Linked DNA regions of Homo sapiens. Each later gene encodes a partner of the first gene's protein in a complex. Each region holds a gene or a part of one and is shown on either strand. Other genes may lie near its edges.

Region 1 (8,082 bases):
TTGTTCATCCATGCATCCCACCAGGCCAGGCAGAACTCTGCCTCTCCTGGGAAGCCATCTCTCATTTTTCTGGCAAACCAGACACTCATTTTCCTGTGGTCTCTTGGTGCCTTGAACAGAACTTTTCTTGCAATCACTTTATTGAATTATTTATTTTTATTTATGTATTTTGAGATGAGTCTTGTTCTGTTGCCGAGACTGAAGTGCAGTGGCATGATCTCAGCTCACTGCAACCTCTGCCTCCCAGATTCAAGAAATTCTCCCCCATCAGCCTCCCTAGTAGCTAGGATTACAGGCGCGTGCCACCACACCCCAGCTAATTTTTGTATTTTTAGTAGAGGTTGGGGGTTTCACTATGTTGGCCAGGATGGTCTCAAACCCCTGGCCTGGGCGCCCACCTCAGCTCCCAAAGTGCTAGGATTACAGGCTTGAGCCACCACACCCGGCCGCAATCATTTTAATATTTTGTATTTTTGTTCTCTTTTGAGATTTTGAATTCCTTGAAGGCAGAGACTGTATTTGATTCTCTTAAAATCCCCAGCACCTGATATAGTGCCTGGCACGTAGCAGGAACTTTGTAAAATGTCTGTTGAGTACGTAATTTAACAAATGAGGCTGGGCGCAGTGGATTACACCTGTAATCCCAGCACTCTGGGAGGCTGAGGCTGGTGGATCACCTGAGGTCAGGAGTTTGTGACCAGCCTGGCCAACATGGTGAAACCCCGTCTCTACTAAAAAATACAAAAAATTAGCTGGGCATGGTAGTGTGTGCCTGTAATCCCAGCTACTCAGGAGGCTAAGGCAGGAGAATCACTTGAATCCGCTAGGCGGAGGTTGCAGCGAGCCGAGATCGCGCTGCTGCACTCCAGCCTAGGCGACAGAGTGAGACTCCACCTCAAAAAAAAAAAAAAAAAAATGAAAGTATGGCAGCCAGGCATGGTGGCTCACACTTATAATCCTACTCCTTTGGGAGACTGAGATGGGAGAATTGCCTGAGCCCAGGAGTTCAAGATCAGCCTGGGCAAAAAAGGGAGACCCTGTCTCTTATAAATAAACAAAGAGTTCCATTTTTGTCGTGCTAAAGGTGCCTTCAGAACACAGTGCAGGAGGGAGGGTGCTCCCTGAAGTCTCAGCAAAAGTGGTGACATTTGAAGCAGTCCTTGAAGGATAGGAAAGTGTTCAGTAGATGTGATGGTCGCTCCAGAGGAAATTGACAACATATGCAAGGCCAGGTGCTAGAAACACCTTGGCATGCTTAGGGAAGTCCTTGGTGTCAGAGCAGCTGGGGGTTTGGGTTCCTGTTTGGTTCAGTGACACCTAAAGCTAGAAGGGGAATGTGACATCATCAAAGCTCTGACTAGGTGGGGGCAGAGACTCGGGTCAGGCAAAGGAGAATGAAGCCTTAAACATGAATTCATGGCCAGGCGCGGTGGCTCACTTCTATAATCCCAGCACTTTGAGGCCGAGGTGGGTGGATCACGAGGTCAGGAGTTCAAGACCAGCCTGGCCAACATGGTGAAACCCCGTCTCTACTAAAAATACAAAAATTAGCCAGGCGTGGTGGCGAGCACCTGTAATCCCAGCTACTTGGGAGGTTGAGGCAGAGAATTGCTTGAACCCGGGAGGCGGAGTTTACAGTGAGCCAAGATCGTGCCACTGCACTCCAGCCTGGGCAACAGAGCGAGACTCTGTCTCAAAAAAAAAAACATTAATTCATTAGTCCATTCATTCATTCATTCGTTCGCATGCCAGACACAGAGCCAGGTACAAAGAGACATCTTGACCCCAGGAATGGGAGCAATGTCAGATGCTGGGGACTGCCTCGGCCTCCACCAGCCACACTCCAAACCCACCCCTGAGCTCTTCTCCCAGGCTCCCCTCCATGTCCTGCTCCCCAAACCCGTGTCAGTTGCTCACCTTCCAGACATGCAGCAAGCTTATCTCGAGGCGTCCTCGCTGTCTCACAAGCTGGAAAAGACCCAGGTGTTTACCTTTGGGATTGGGGTATGGCCAGGATGAGCTGGAGTCAGGGTGGATGGGATGTTGGTGAGAAACAGAAAGATGGATGAACAGATGGGAGGGACCAAGGAAGGAGTGGGGAAGGGGTGGATGGGTGGATGGCTAGGTGCAGCAGAAGATTCTCTGGGTAGAATTCTCTCACTGGGGTCCCCAGGCCTCCCTTCCTGGGGCAAATCCTTCCCGGTGCTCACCTGTGTACTTGGCCCAGAACACATCCTGAAAAACAAGGGCTGGGAGTGAGGCTACGGCAGCTCCTGTTTTGTGTTGTTTTAGTAAATGTTATGTCTCCTCCTCACACTTTCCTTTACCCTGGTCACGCAGGGGGCAGGCTCTGGGGAGGTTTGTGGCAGAGTTTCCTACTTTTGTTTCCAAAAGGAGAAGAATATTTGAGGATAGGGGAGTTCCTCCAACACACACACCGAGACTGAAAGAGGCTGGGGGAGATGGGAGGAGAGGGGGCAGTGGGACCCTGGCAGAGCCCTACAGACAGGAAAGGCGACACAGAGCTCCAGGAACACTGAGTCTTGAGCCCGGGGGCTTGTGGTGGCCTCCCCAGAGTCCCACCCCTCAAGGGTGGTGTGGGAGTCTGCCGCTGAGGAGGCCATGTGGACACAGAGCTCCAGGGCAGGTGGATGTCTGAAGACTGTGGAGGCCTCCCCATGTCATGGAGCTGCACAGGGACACAGTCCAGGCACAGAGACCCCCAGGAAAGGCTGAGGCCGCTCCTCTTGCCAGCCCTGTGAGGAGGGGCTCAGAGTTGAAATGAGGCTGTGAGCAGCGAAGGGGCTGTGGCGTTCCTCGCTTGCTTCTCTGTGGAAGTGTCTAGAGTTGGGCCCGGTCTGAGGCCCCGGCACCGTCCGAGCAGCCCAGGCTCACCGTAGCCGTGGAGGACTCCAGAGCCTCGAAGGCCTCCTCGTAGCTGCACGTCTCCTCCACGCACTCTCGCTCCAGGTTGCCCTTGCGCACCTCCTCCAAGAAGGTGTTGGCTCGCCGGACCCGCTGGAGCAGCGACCGTGCTTGCTGAGGAGCCAGGAACACTGTAAGGCGGTGGGGGGGTCATGGGACAGCGGCCTCAGGAACAGGCAGTCTTGGCCATTCTGGGGGCATGAAGCAAGCCCACCCTCCCCTGCTGGCTTCTGAGAGAGGCTGTCTGGGCTGGTGGAAGTGCCTGGAAGGCTGCTAAATGTGGCCCCCTGTGCCCCTCCTACACTGCCCCTTGCCCCCAGCCTGCTCCCTATATTGGAAGAGAGAAGCAGCCATTCTCTTTCCAGCCCTGAGCTCCTGACTTCTTCCCTAAGCTGGCCGCCTGGGGCTGAGACCTACTTAGGGGCCAGCTCTGTGTGCTCTGTCCAGCCAGGAGACCCCAGCCCATGGGCCCACACCCCAGTCCTCCAGCCTGTTCCAGCCTGCAAGCACTCCCTTACCATGCTGGCTGTGCACAAGGCTACACAGGGCAGCCAGGGCCAGGCAGCCAGGCAGCTGCAAGCCTCGGACGTGCGCCATAGTGTGTCAGCTCCTGGGTCACTGAGGAATTGTCTGTCCTGACCCCTCTGGGTTAATGTTGAACTAACATGAAGAAATCAGCGGAGAGGGTGAGGTCAGAGGGTCAGGGCCGTGGGGACGGGTGGGTAGATAGTCCTCCTGTCCATCTCCACCATCTGGGAGGACAGGTCCTCCTGGGAGCAGGGATGGATGGTCTAGGAGGAGTCACAAAAAAGGTCACTGTCACCCCCATCTCCCACCCTCCCCCTCTGAGATTTAGCCCATTCTGGCCAGTGGGGCTATGAGACTTTCCTGGAGCTCCTTCGAATCCTAACATATAGCGGTGGTTGCTTGTCATCTCTGTGTGCCTCAGTTTCCTCATCTATACAATGGGAATAATACTTTGTTGTGAGGACTAAAGGAGATTAGGAATGGAATGTCCATGGAATATCGTAAGTTCTTAATCAGATCTGCACATATAGGCCAATGTGGGGGTTTGTATAATCATAATACACAGATATCAAAAATAGAGACAAAGATAAAAGGTGTGGCCTGATGGAAGTTGCCCCTCGCCATGGGATGCACCAGGGATAGGAACAGCCAACATTTGCCCCAGCTTCTCAGCCACTGGAGGAGGGGCCCATTTCTCCTCCTTCCTGTCCAGGGTGCCTGGAGGTGTGTTTGTGTGTGGCAGCTGCCTGGGAGGAGTCAGGTCCAGGGACTCTTGGGCCTTTAGTCTATCTTCTGTCACCTCCCAGGACCTGCGCCTGTCCCGGAACAGGGGCTACTGAAATCCCTGGGTCTCCACTGAGGGGCCCTCCTTCTCCCTGGCTGCCTGCCCCATGGCAGGCCTAGAGAGGCTTCTGGTCCTACCCTACCCTCCGCCCTACTCCTGTCCCTCCCCCATTTCCTGTTTGCAGTACCCAAGGCAAATATTAGTCTAAGTAGGACAGAGGGACAAAGAGCAGGAACACGGGGAGGCACAAGTTCTCGCCTCGCCTCACCTGTCCTTTGGGCCTGGCTGTTTGGGGTCTGGACCAGGTCATGTGTGGGAACAGGGAGTGTTGGCAGAAAAACTGGGGACCAGGACTCCCGCAAACACCTTAATTCCTGGGAGGCCCATTTCTTATATATTTTCATATATATATTTTTAGGCCAGGCATAGTGGCTCACACTTGTAATCCCAACACTTTGGGAGGCCGACATGGCAGGATCGCTTGAGGCCAGGAGTTTGAGACCAGCCTGGGCAACATAGCAAGACCCTCATCTCTACCAAAAAAAAATTAAAAATTAGCTGGGAATGGTGGTGCATGCCTGCAGTCTGAGCTACTGAGGAGGCTGAGGCAGGAGGATCACTTGAGCCCAGGAGTTCCAGGCTGCAGTGAGCTATGATTGCACCACTGTACTCCAGCCTGGGTAACAGAGTAAGATCCTGTTTCTTTCTTTCTTTCTTTCTTTCTTTTTTTTTTTTTTTTTTGAGACGGAGTCTCGCCCTGTCACCCAGGCTGGAGTGCAGTGGAACAATCTCGGCTCACTGCAATTTCCATCTCCCTGTTCAAGTGATTCTCCTGACTCAGTATCCCAAGTAGCTGGAATTACAGGCGTGTGCCACCACACCTGGCTAATTTTTGTATTTTTAGTAGAGATGGGGTTTCGCCACATTGACCAGGATGGTCTCGAACTCCTGACCTCAGGTGATCCGCCCACCTCCACCTCGGCCTCCCAAGTGCTGGGATTACAGGCGTGAGCCACCATGCCTGGCCTGAATGAGACCTGTTCCTAGAAAAATAAAATAAAATAAAATAAAATTGAATAAATAAAATAAAATTATAATATATATTTTGGGTTTTTGTTGTTTTGTTTTTGAGATGGAGGCTGGAGTGCAATAGCGTGAACTCGGCTCACTGCAACCTCTACCTCCTAGGTTCAAGCGATTCTCCTGCCTCAGCCTCCCGAATAGCTGGAACTACAGGCACCCGCCATCATGCCTGGCTAATTTTTGTATTTTTGTAGAGACAGAGTTTCACCATGTTGCCCAGGCTGGACGTGAACTCCTGACCTCAGGTGATCTGCCCACTTTAGCCTCCCAAAGTGGGGATTACAGGCGTGAACCACTGCTACCTACCTGTTGGGTTTTTTTGTTTGTTTTTGTTTTGTTTTGTTTTGTTTTTTTGAGATGGAGTCTCACTCTGTCACCCAGAAAGGAGTGCAGTGGCGTGATCTCAGCTCACTGCAACCTCGGCCTCCTGAGTACAAGTGATTCTCCTGCCTCAGCCTCCCAAGTAGCTCCCAAGTGCATGCTAGGGATTACAAGCATGCACTACCACGCCCAGCTAATTTTGTATTTTTAGTAGAGATGGGGTTTCACCATGTTGGTCAGGCTGGTCTCGAACTGCTGACCTCAGGTGATCCACCTGCCTCGGCCCCCCAAAGTGCTGGGATTACAGGTATGAGCCACTGCCCGGCCTCTTTGCAGACTTTTACTCACAGTTGCAGGCCTGTTCAGTATATGACATTCTTATACCCAGAAATGGCTATCTTAGCCTGGGCTGCTATAAAATTACTGTAGGCCAGGTGCAGTGGCTCACGCCTGTAATCCCAATACTTTGGGAGGCCGAGGCGGGCCGATCACAAGGTGAGGAGTTCGAGACCAGCCTGGCCAACATAGTGAAACCCCGTCTCTACTAAAAACACATAAATTAGCTAGGCATGGTGGCACACACCTGTAATCCCAGCTACTCGGGAGACTGAGACAGAAAAATTGCTTGAACCCAGGAGGCAGAGGTTGCAGTGAGCCGAGAGTGTGCCAATGCACTCCAGCCTGGGCGACAGAGCAAGACTTCATCTCAAAAAAAAAAAAAAATTACTGTAAACTGGGTGGTTTAAACAACAGACATCTACAAGGGGTCTTCGAAAAGTTCATGGAAAATGCGTATTATGAAAAAAGACTGCATGGATTTAAAAAAATTTTTGTGCACCAAAATAAACTCACACTAACTTGCTATAACATGAGTGAACAGGATGTAGTTTGAGGCACTAAGAAGGATAAGACATCAGTTTGAAGCGAGCCCTTATCAGAGCTAAATGAATTCTGCTGAAATTGAAGCAAGAACAAACAACAAATTTACGGTGAAGCTTGGGTGGAAGAATGGTGAAATCACTGATGCTTTATGAAAAGTTTACGGAGACAATGTCCCAAAGAAATCAGCAGCTTACAAATGGACAACTCATTTTAAGAAGGGACAAGGCAGGCCGGGCGCGGTGTCTCATGCCTGCAATCCCACCACTTTGGGAGGCCGAGGCAGGTGGATCACTTGAGGACAGGAGTTCAAGACCAACCTGGCCACCATGGAGACACCTCGTCTCTACTAAAAATAAAAAAATTAGCTGGGCATGGATGTGCGTGCCTATAGTCTCAGCTATTTGGGAGGCTGAGACAGGAGAATAGCTTGAACCCGGGAGGCGGAGGCTGCAGTGAGCTGAGATCGTGTCACTGCACTCCAGCCTGGGCAACAGAGCAAGACTCTTGACTCCCAAAAAAAAAAGACATTTTTTGGACAAACAAAAACACTTAAATATAGGTTAGGTGTTTAGTGCACTACCATGGGTGCAGGACAACAATGGACCCAGCACATGCTTAGTCTTCAGGGTCTGATACAAGCCCCCAGCCTCCAGGAACCAACTGTTTGTTCTCCTTGGAACTCTGAGGTCCCTAGTTGGTACCATGCAGCCAAGTTTGGCATTCCTGCCGTTCAGCACAAACACGGCCTGCATACTTAAAGCAGACATATATATATTTTTTGTGTGTGAGACGGAATCTTGCTCTGTTTCCCAGGCTGGAGTGCAGTGGCATAATCTCGGCTCACCGCAACCTCCGCCTCCTGGGTTCAAGTGGTTCTCTTGTTTCGGCCTCCCAAATAGCTGGGATTACAGGTGTGTGCCACCACACCCAGCTAATTTTTGTTATTTTTAGTAGAGACAGGATTTCACCATACTGGCCAGGCTGGTCTCAAACTCCTGACCTCAGGTGATCTGCCCGCCTTGGCCCCTCAAAGTGCTGGGATTACAGGCCTGAGCCACCACACCCGGCCTTAAAGCAGATATTCTTGCCCTATAGGAGCAAGGCCATAACAAAGCGGGGGGCAGGGGGTGCATTCCTGCCCAACAAGTTGGCGTCAAACAAAATCATGGGTAAAGACCAATGCTAAATTGTAAAGCAAATCTCTATAACCACTGAAAACAGTAAAATTATGTTCCAAGACATAGTGTTAGAGAATTTCAGGGCTCAAAGAAAGACCAGATATTATTAAATCCAGCCATTTCCAAGCCTAGGGCTGTGTGCACGTTCTACGGGGTGGCCTTGTCTTTCTGCATATATTTTGTTAAAACCTCAAAAATTGTGAATTTGCCTTATTAAGACAAAAATGAATTTTTTTCCCTTTCGACTGAAATTTTTTCTCTTTAGGTGGTGAATAATCTTATGTTTTTCTCAATCTGATCAGCAGTTTTCAATTTTTTATTTCTTTTTTTTTTTTTGCTCTTCTGCAGACAGTGACTTAAGCAGTTTTCTATTTTGACTAG
Region 2 (7,958 bases), on another chromosome or scaffold:
AAAAAGAAAGGAAGAAAGGAAGGAAGGAGAAAGAAAGAAAGAAAGAAAGAAAGAAAGAAAGAAAGAAAGAAAGAAAGAAAGAAAGAGAAAAAAGAAAGAAAGAAACTAGCTTGTAAATATGCCTAATTTTATTTTGGTTACAGTTTAATCTGTGAGTTCAAAACCTATGGGGCATTTGACTTTTGGATAATGTTATGCCCTGCAGCCTTCCATGAATGCCAGTTAAGATGTCCTAATAGCAATTAGTAATCCCAAAGAAATATAGAAGAAGAACTTTCTTTGGAATTTTAAAGGTGTAATTTGGAGTTAAAATAGTTGGTTTGATTGCATTTCAATTATTTTATAACATCCTTAATCAAGGGACTTGAACATATTGGATTTTCTTACTGATGAGCTTTTCTTTTTAATCTATAGATTTGAAATGGTTCCTAAGCTGTTTTGGGTCAACAGGATCACTCACTTGCCAGCTAGTGTTGCATCACTGATTTTAAATGTCAAGTGTTTGTGAAGGTGTAAAAAGGCAAAGCAAAACTTGAGAAACTGAGGACTCCCTAGACTCGCTGTCCATGCCCAGAGTGAATGCAATGTTTCCTAACCCTAATGAGTAGACTGTGAGAATGACGTAGCTTGACCCTATATTTTAAATTTAAAAATCTACCTAATCAGCTCAGTGGAGTCTGGGAGTTGAATTCCCAGCTCTGTGTCTTTGAACAAGTTCCTTGACCTCTCAGTTTTCACCTTTACAAAGCAGAAACAAAAATATCAACTCAAAGAGTCTGACCCATCCTACTTTCAGTATATACTGTTGAAAAGAACACATTTAAATTCTTGTTTTTAATCCAAAATTCTGACTTATTTTGTGACCTTAAACAATCTCAGTTAACATCTTTTACTTTGAAAAAATAACGAAAACAAAAGCTCCCTCTTAAAATTTTCAGGGATATTATGAAGGTATGTGTTTCTACACTAAGTACTTTGGGATGAAATTGTCATAGATATAAGCGGATATCATATTTATTTAGGATTTTTGTTGTTTCTGTTATAAAGTCAAAGCAGTAAATATGTAATACTTACTATTGGCTGAGGAAAAATCGCCTCTCAAAATTTCCATTATATTAGTGGTCAACGAATGAGAATCCTTATTGTTCTTCTGATATTCAAATAGTGAATTTTTGAGCTTATTTATTCTGTTTGTAAAATCTTGATTGACTTCATCAATCAACCCTTTCATCCTGCAGCCAGAAGGGCATTTGTAGTTCTGAAAGTGAAGGGAGAAAATTACAGTAAGGATCTATCTCTCAGATTCAGAATAATTTTGCATGTTTCCATGCAGCCCCCATTTCTTCCTACCCTATCTCTTCCAGATAAGTTGGCTTAAAAGTAGGTAAGAGGACTAGTTAGAGGTCGCAGAGAAACTCTGGAATGAGGGTCCACTTAGCCATAAATTAGGTGCCAGGAAATTGAGGCCACAATACTCAGGAGCCTGGTTTTGCCTGAGCATGCAACTGAAATCCTGTCTGTTCACCCACTAATGATCCAGAGTTGGGGAGGTAAATAAACAGTGCTCTTGGGAGTAGGTTCCTTTTCTTTATTTGCTATGTAGGTAACTATTCAATTATTTTCTATTTAAAAAAGTTTCTGGGACCAATCAGGTCAGCCTGTGAGCCCCTCTAGCATCAGAGGGAAGGAATCTCCTGCTTCCCCCGCTGACTGCTTACCCAGTCTTCATCAGAGCAGAAGGGCCAGTCTGAATCTTTGCAGGCAGATTGATGTCTTTCCACAACCCTTGGGCCACGCACGCCTCCTCCTTCAGCTAGAAAGTCACCTTCACCACTATCTGCAGTCTTTAAAGATTCATTCACATACACAAAAGAGAGCAACAGCAATGTTAGCCAGAAGAGGAGACAGTGGCATGCCTACAAGTCCCCAGGAAGAGATGGCACTCTCACAGAGATTAAGGAGAGCAGACACAGGGCTTCGGCAAGCTTCAGGTTTCTTATCTTCAAATGGAAATCCTAGGACCCATTTTATGGAGTTGTTATGAGAATTAAAGGAGACAAGGTGTACAAATTTCTTAACTGTGTGTGACACTTAAATAAGCATTTGATAAATATTAGGAGTTTTAAAGAATCCATCCTAAAAGGAAAATTATTTGAATCTATAAAATCAGTTAAATTTTACCTTTTCATTTTTACTAATGACTGCAGACAGAAAGTTGAAAACTACTGTAGAGCTCTTTCTCCTGTAATTGCTGCTTCAGTAGAAAAACCTAGACTATCTTAACTGAATGTTCCTCTCTCCTTCAAGTTTCTATGTAACCTTTAGAGATGGATTCATAATTTAAAAGAATACCATTACTGCGGAAAAGCGTATTGCCTTACTAACTAATCTCTTCTGATACTGCAAAGATATTTCCAAAGATAATTCGTTTGCTTTTTCTTCTGTCTTGACAAACACAACAATAACCTTTCAGCAAAACTGTACTAACACTAAAAGTTCTGCTTATTATGGACAAGTAGCAAGAAATTAATAACTAAAGAAAACAAATCTTACCATAAAATGTTTTATTCCATTAACTAGCATTATAATGCACCAAGGCTTTATAGGTACAAGGATGGCAAATAATTCTTGCCCTTTTTAAAACAAAACAAAACAAAATGTGGTAAGACTGAATGACAGATGCTAAAGTTTCCCTTGTGAGTTTGTACACTCTCATCCATCTAAGATCTTCCTCTTGGTGTCATATTACCCTGTATTCTTGAGGTGTCAAGCCCACCCAGGAAATTTCCTCCCAGGCCTGGGGTCATAAAGCTAAGAGTGTGTCAGGACATAGAGCAGGTAGACTCTGACCTCCAGGCTCTTTGTGGAATAAACACCAGAGAGAAAGCAAGAAGAAAAAATGAAAAGGGCCATACCCATGCTGTGCCCACCACACTTAGGACCAGGCAGACGATCCTCATGGAAAACATCTTTTCTAAGGGTGGGGCTGGCTCCTGAGGAGCACTCCAGCTGAAAGAAAGGATTGCTGCCACTCCTAGTTCCCATCCTATTTAAATCTGCAAGAGGTTTGGTTAATCATTGGCTTTGTCCTGTGTAGACAGTCAACCCTCCCTCTACGTCCTTTGTTCCTCCTATGCTGTTGGTATCCCAGAAATTCTTGCTCAATTCCCCTCAGCTTGTTTGCTTCCGATAAGCTGTTGCAAAGGTAGCATTTGATTCTCCAGTCAACAATTAGGAGATCTCACATTCCAGGAACAGGGTGGCTTTGAGAATGAAAAGAGGAGCATAGGAGGGTATATCCATATTTCTAAACGTGAAAGAATATAGAAGGTGCTTAGGTAAGCTAGCTGTAGCCCCCAGTAGTAGTGATTTAGCAAACAATATTTCACTTTATGCAGAAATTAGGGTTGGGTGATCTGGCTTATAAAAAAAATAACTTTGGGGATAAGCTGGCCCTGAAGGCTTTCTATAAGTTTATTTAGAACATATTACTTTTCTCTATTTAAAATATTAAGATGACAGCAGCCCCAGGAACAAAACATCTTGGGTTCATAATCCAAGCTGCACCACTTCCCTGCTCTATGTTCTTGGACAAGTTACTTTACCTCTTTATACTTCAGTTTCCTCATTTATAAAATAAGGATGCTGATAAGCTACCCCATGCTTTTATGAAGAATAAATGAGTTAATTCTTGTAAATCTCTCAGAACAGTGACTGTCACATAGGAAATACTCAGTGAATTATGGGAGATCATAAAGTGCCATGAAAAATACCATTTATTTCCTGTTTCTGTGCTAGCAATCTCATTTCTGAGTGTATTTCCAAAGGAAATGAAATCAGGATCTTGAAGAGACACCTGCATTCCCATGTTCATTGTAGCTATATTGACAATAGCCGAGATATGAAAACAACCTGTTTCCACTGATGGATGAGTAGATAAAGAAAATGTGTATATATATATATACACAATGGAGTATTACTCAGCCTTGAAAAAGAAGGAAATTCTGTCATTTGCAGTAACATTGATGAACCTAGAGGGCATTATCCTAAGTGAAATGAGCAGATATAGACAGACAAATACTGCTTAGCTGGTCGTGGTGACAGGCACCTGTAATCCCAGCTACTCAGGAGGCTGAGGCAGGGAGAATCACTTGAACGCGGGAGGTGGAGGAGGTTGCAGTGAGCCGAGATTGCATCATTGCACTCCAGCCTGGGCCACAGAGTGAGACTCCTTCTCAAAAAAAAAAAAAAAAACGGAAAAGAAAGACAAATACTGTATGATCTTTCTTACATGTGAAATCTAAAATAGTCAAACTCACGGAAGAAAAGTGTAGAATGGTGGTGGCCAGGGCCTGAGGCATAGGAGAAATGGGGGAGATGTTGGTTAGAGGGCACAAAGTTTGAGCTATGCAATATAAATAAGTTCTGGAGTCCAATGTGCAGCATGGTGACTATAGTTGATAATATTATGCTGTATATTTGAAATTTGCTAAAAAGGTAGATCTTAAGTCTTCTCACCACACAAAAAGATAACTATATGAGGTGTTTTAAGTGCTAATTAGATTAATAGTGGTAATCATTTCACAATGTTTATGTGTATCAAAACACCAATCAGAGAGAAGTTCCCCTTTAAAGGAAAATAAAAAAACAAACATCCAGCTGTACAACCTAAATTATGCAATTTTTATTTGTCAATTATACTTCAATAAAGGTAAAAAACATCTTCAGCTTACATTTACCAGATGTATTAGGTTGGCGGAAATAGCAAATAAAAATAAGAGTGTCCCAGTTAAATTTGAATTTCAGATAAACAACAAATCTATTTGAGTATAAGTATGTCTCATGTGATATTTGAGACACACTTAAAATTTTTTTGTTGTTCATCTGAAATTCAAACTTTACTGGACATCCTGTACTTTATCTGGCAATCCTACCTTGCCTCAAATTCTGCTTCCTACATGAAGCCAATCCTAATAGAGTAATAGCTAATGTGTATTGAATGTTTACTAAGTCTTGGGTTCTTTGCTAGACATTTTGCAGGGTACCTGATTCAATGTCCAATTAAAAGGAATCTCATGTTCTTTCATACTTCCTTAGACTGTGCACCACTAATGGCATTTATCATTATAGGAGTACCGTCTGTCTCCTCCACTAGATCATAAACTTGAGAATTGAAATGTTTTATTGGTCTTTATATTCTCCCCAAAAGGTGTGGGCCCTCATTGAGCAAGAAAGCATAAGTGGGTTCCAGAGATGCGAAGTTGCCTGGCTGCCTCCCCCAGCACTGCAGACGTGTGAAGCTTTCTATAAATGGATGGAAGCCCTGGTGCAAGGCAGTGCACTGTCTGCTCTATGGAAGACTCCTTGTCTGATCAAGCTCACCCCTGAAGCAGCTTGCTATGATTTTAGAGTTAACTGCAGAGCAAAGAGGAAGCCCCAGAGCCCCATCCAGGTTCCAGAGGGCAATGATTCCATGAAAAGCTGGGTTACACTCACTCACAATGACTGCACTGGCAAAATGTCAGGATTAGATAGGAAGGTGAGGCTTGATCTCTGCACACATTTTCCTATGCCCACAAGAAGTGCCCCTTTGGGAGGTGAACATGGTATATAGCAAAGAAGTTCCCGAGAGTAACCTGGTAGGCCTTAGGTGAGTCGGCTGAACATAATCTGATTGAAGGTAAATTAACAGAAAACAATTTGGTTGAATGCCACCACCCTAGTGCCATGTCAGGGTGTTTCCAAGGATGCCACCTGAGGGCTTTATCCTTGCCTCTCAGAATCAGCACATCTCACACCCTTTCTTACTCCTGGCCTCTGCTCACATGGCATCTACTCAGAGAGGCCTTCTCTGGCCACCTGATCTAAAGAGCTGCCACTCTCGCATGTCATTCCATTGACTCTGCTTGGTTTTTCCACGCAGTACCTTATAACTCCTGGACAATGTGCATTTGGGAAGGTATTTGTTTATTCTGTGTCTTGCCTACACAAAGCTTCCTGAGGCCAAGGCACAAGGACTGGCACAAATGTCAGGCATAGAGCAATTGCTGCTCAGTATCTGCTGGAGAAATGGAAGGCTGTCACCATATGGTGGTGACAATGCATGGTGGGCTTTCCAGCATGTGAGACCTGGATTCCAGCTAAGTGACATGGGCAAACTATTTAAATTCTCTGAGCTATAAATGGGATGATGATATTTGTCTTACAGGATTGCTGTGAAGATTATGTAAAATGGTGTATGTAAAATGTTGGCCATACACAGCAGGAGCTCTAGAAACAGTAGCTTTTATTGTTCCTAGAATATCCCAATGCTCCATGATAAAATGTTCCCTTGTTTTGACTGTAGTACCAGGAGTCCCTAATGAGGCACTTCTGTAGCTCACTGTTTGGCCCCACACTGCAGGCTGCTCACTAGGCTGGGCTCTCTGCCCCATGAACAGGCTGTATTGTAAGCTTTGGAGGAGTAGGTTTTGTTTAGCTGGAAAACCATGCAAATTAATAGGCATGATACGAGTATCATTTTTTAAAAAGCATGTGACAATAAGCGTATCTTTAAATGTGCAAAACTGGAAAAAAGATGGAAGAAATTTTCAGTTGCTTAAATTATAATCTGCCGTGCATTGGCTTTTTCTTTTTGAGATGGAGTCTCACTCTGCCACCCAGGCTGGAGTGCAACAGCGCCATCTCAGCTTACTGCAACCTCTGCCTCCCGGGTTCAAGCGATTTTCCTGCCTCAGCCTCCTGAGTAGCTGGGATTACAGGTGCCCACCACCATGACTGGCTAATTTTTTGTATTTTTAGTAGAGATAGGGTTTCCCCATGTTGACCAGGCTGGTCTTGAACTCCTGACCTGAGGTGCTCCACCCACTTCAGCCTCCCAAAGTGCTGGGATTACAGGCATGAGCTACTGCACCAGGTTTGTCTTTTTCCTATAGATAACTACATCCTATTTACCTTAGCTCTAATGAGAAGGATGTTTGATATATCTATCCTTTTGAAGTTAATGTAATATAAACATTTAAATATAAATGTTAATATAAACATTTGAATGCAGGAATTTACACATTTGTTATGCCATAACTTTTGGCATGACTAGAATAGTTTTTACTAGTTTTAATAGCTTTATTTGTGTGGTATATAATGTATACAGAAAGAGTAGAAATTCTATAGCTATATGTTTCAGTTTTAAACTATATCTACTCATCACAGCTTCCACAGGAAAAGTAAAATATATAACCAGTTATCTATATATTTGCAATTGTATAAATACAACTTAAAAATACAAAACAAAACAACAGTGTTATTTTGAATGGAATATTTGTCTTACCCTGGGCTGACACCAGAAATTAAATGCATTGATTTCTGAGAGCAGCTCACTCATTCACTCATTTGTCTAAATTTAGCAATCATTTATCCTATGTATATTATTTCTCTAGTCCTGCATACTATGTGCTTAAGATAAAAAGGCAAACAATGTATAGTCTTTTACCTTCAAGTTGCTTACAATTGGCAAGCAAGTCAAATACGTTATGCAGCTGAGAATTAAGTTAAACTATGTAAACTTGACATTTTTGTAGGTCAAAACAATAATATCTACAGTTTTATACGGTTTAATCTAATATAAAACAATGGAAAAAATCTGTAAGCTATATGCTGAGTTCTGTTAGAACACACAGCAGAGAGTGTTATATCACTTACGTATTGCTTTTTGTTTTGTTTGTGTGAGATATTTCTTAAAAAGTCAGATTTAATTCAGGTCTCAAAATACAAGATGTTTCTGAAAAATTCTTATGTCATCTATCATAAAAATCTACATGAATCTGTACATTCTTTCCAAAGACATTTGGTATCCTAATAACAAGAAGATAATAGTACTTTGACAGGAACTATTTTGTTAAAACAATATTAAGTGCATTCTTGGAAAGTACTAAAATTATCTTCTAAATTTTGAAATGACT

The links. The genes of interacting proteins can lie anywhere in the genome.
Region 2: the proteins of F2 (region 1) and FGA are in contact, whole or in part, in a crystal structure (PDB 2A45), measured with the Homo sapiens proteins. Residues at the interface, in NP_000497.1 of Homo sapiens: Phe382, Lys384, Ser385, Gln387, Leu423, Arg425, Tyr434, Glu439, Lys440, Ile441, Ser442, Met443, Lys470; in NP_000499.1 of Homo sapiens: Trp52, Pro53, Phe54, Cys55, Ser56, Asp57, Glu58.

What each region holds. Positions count from the first base shown.
Region 1 is NC_000011.10:46,714,676-46,722,757, reverse strand, and holds the start of F2 (prothrombin preproprotein), read right to left. Parts: upstream 3,546-8,082; 5' UTR 3,523-3,545; coding exon 3,444-3,522; intron 3,057-3,443; coding exon 2,896-3,056; intron 2,236-2,895; coding exon 2,211-2,235; intron 1,969-2,210; coding exon 1,918-1,968; intron 1-1,917. UniProt on the Homo sapiens protein: Thrombin, which cleaves bonds after Arg and Lys, converts fibrinogen to fibrin and activates factors V, VII, VIII, XIII, and, in complex with thrombomodulin, protein C. Functions in blood homeostasis, inflammation and wound healing.
Region 2 is NC_000004.12:154,587,719-154,595,676, forward strand, and holds the start of FGA (fibrinogen alpha chain isoform alpha precursor), read right to left. Parts: upstream 3,025-7,958; 5' UTR 2,970-3,024; coding exon 2,916-2,969; intron 1,845-2,915; coding exon 1,719-1,844; intron 1,259-1,718; coding exon 1,075-1,258; intron 1-1,074. UniProt on the Homo sapiens protein: Cleaved by the protease thrombin to yield monomers which, together with fibrinogen beta (FGB) and fibrinogen gamma (FGG), polymerize to form an insoluble fibrin matrix. Fibrin has a major function in hemostasis as one of the primary components of blood clots.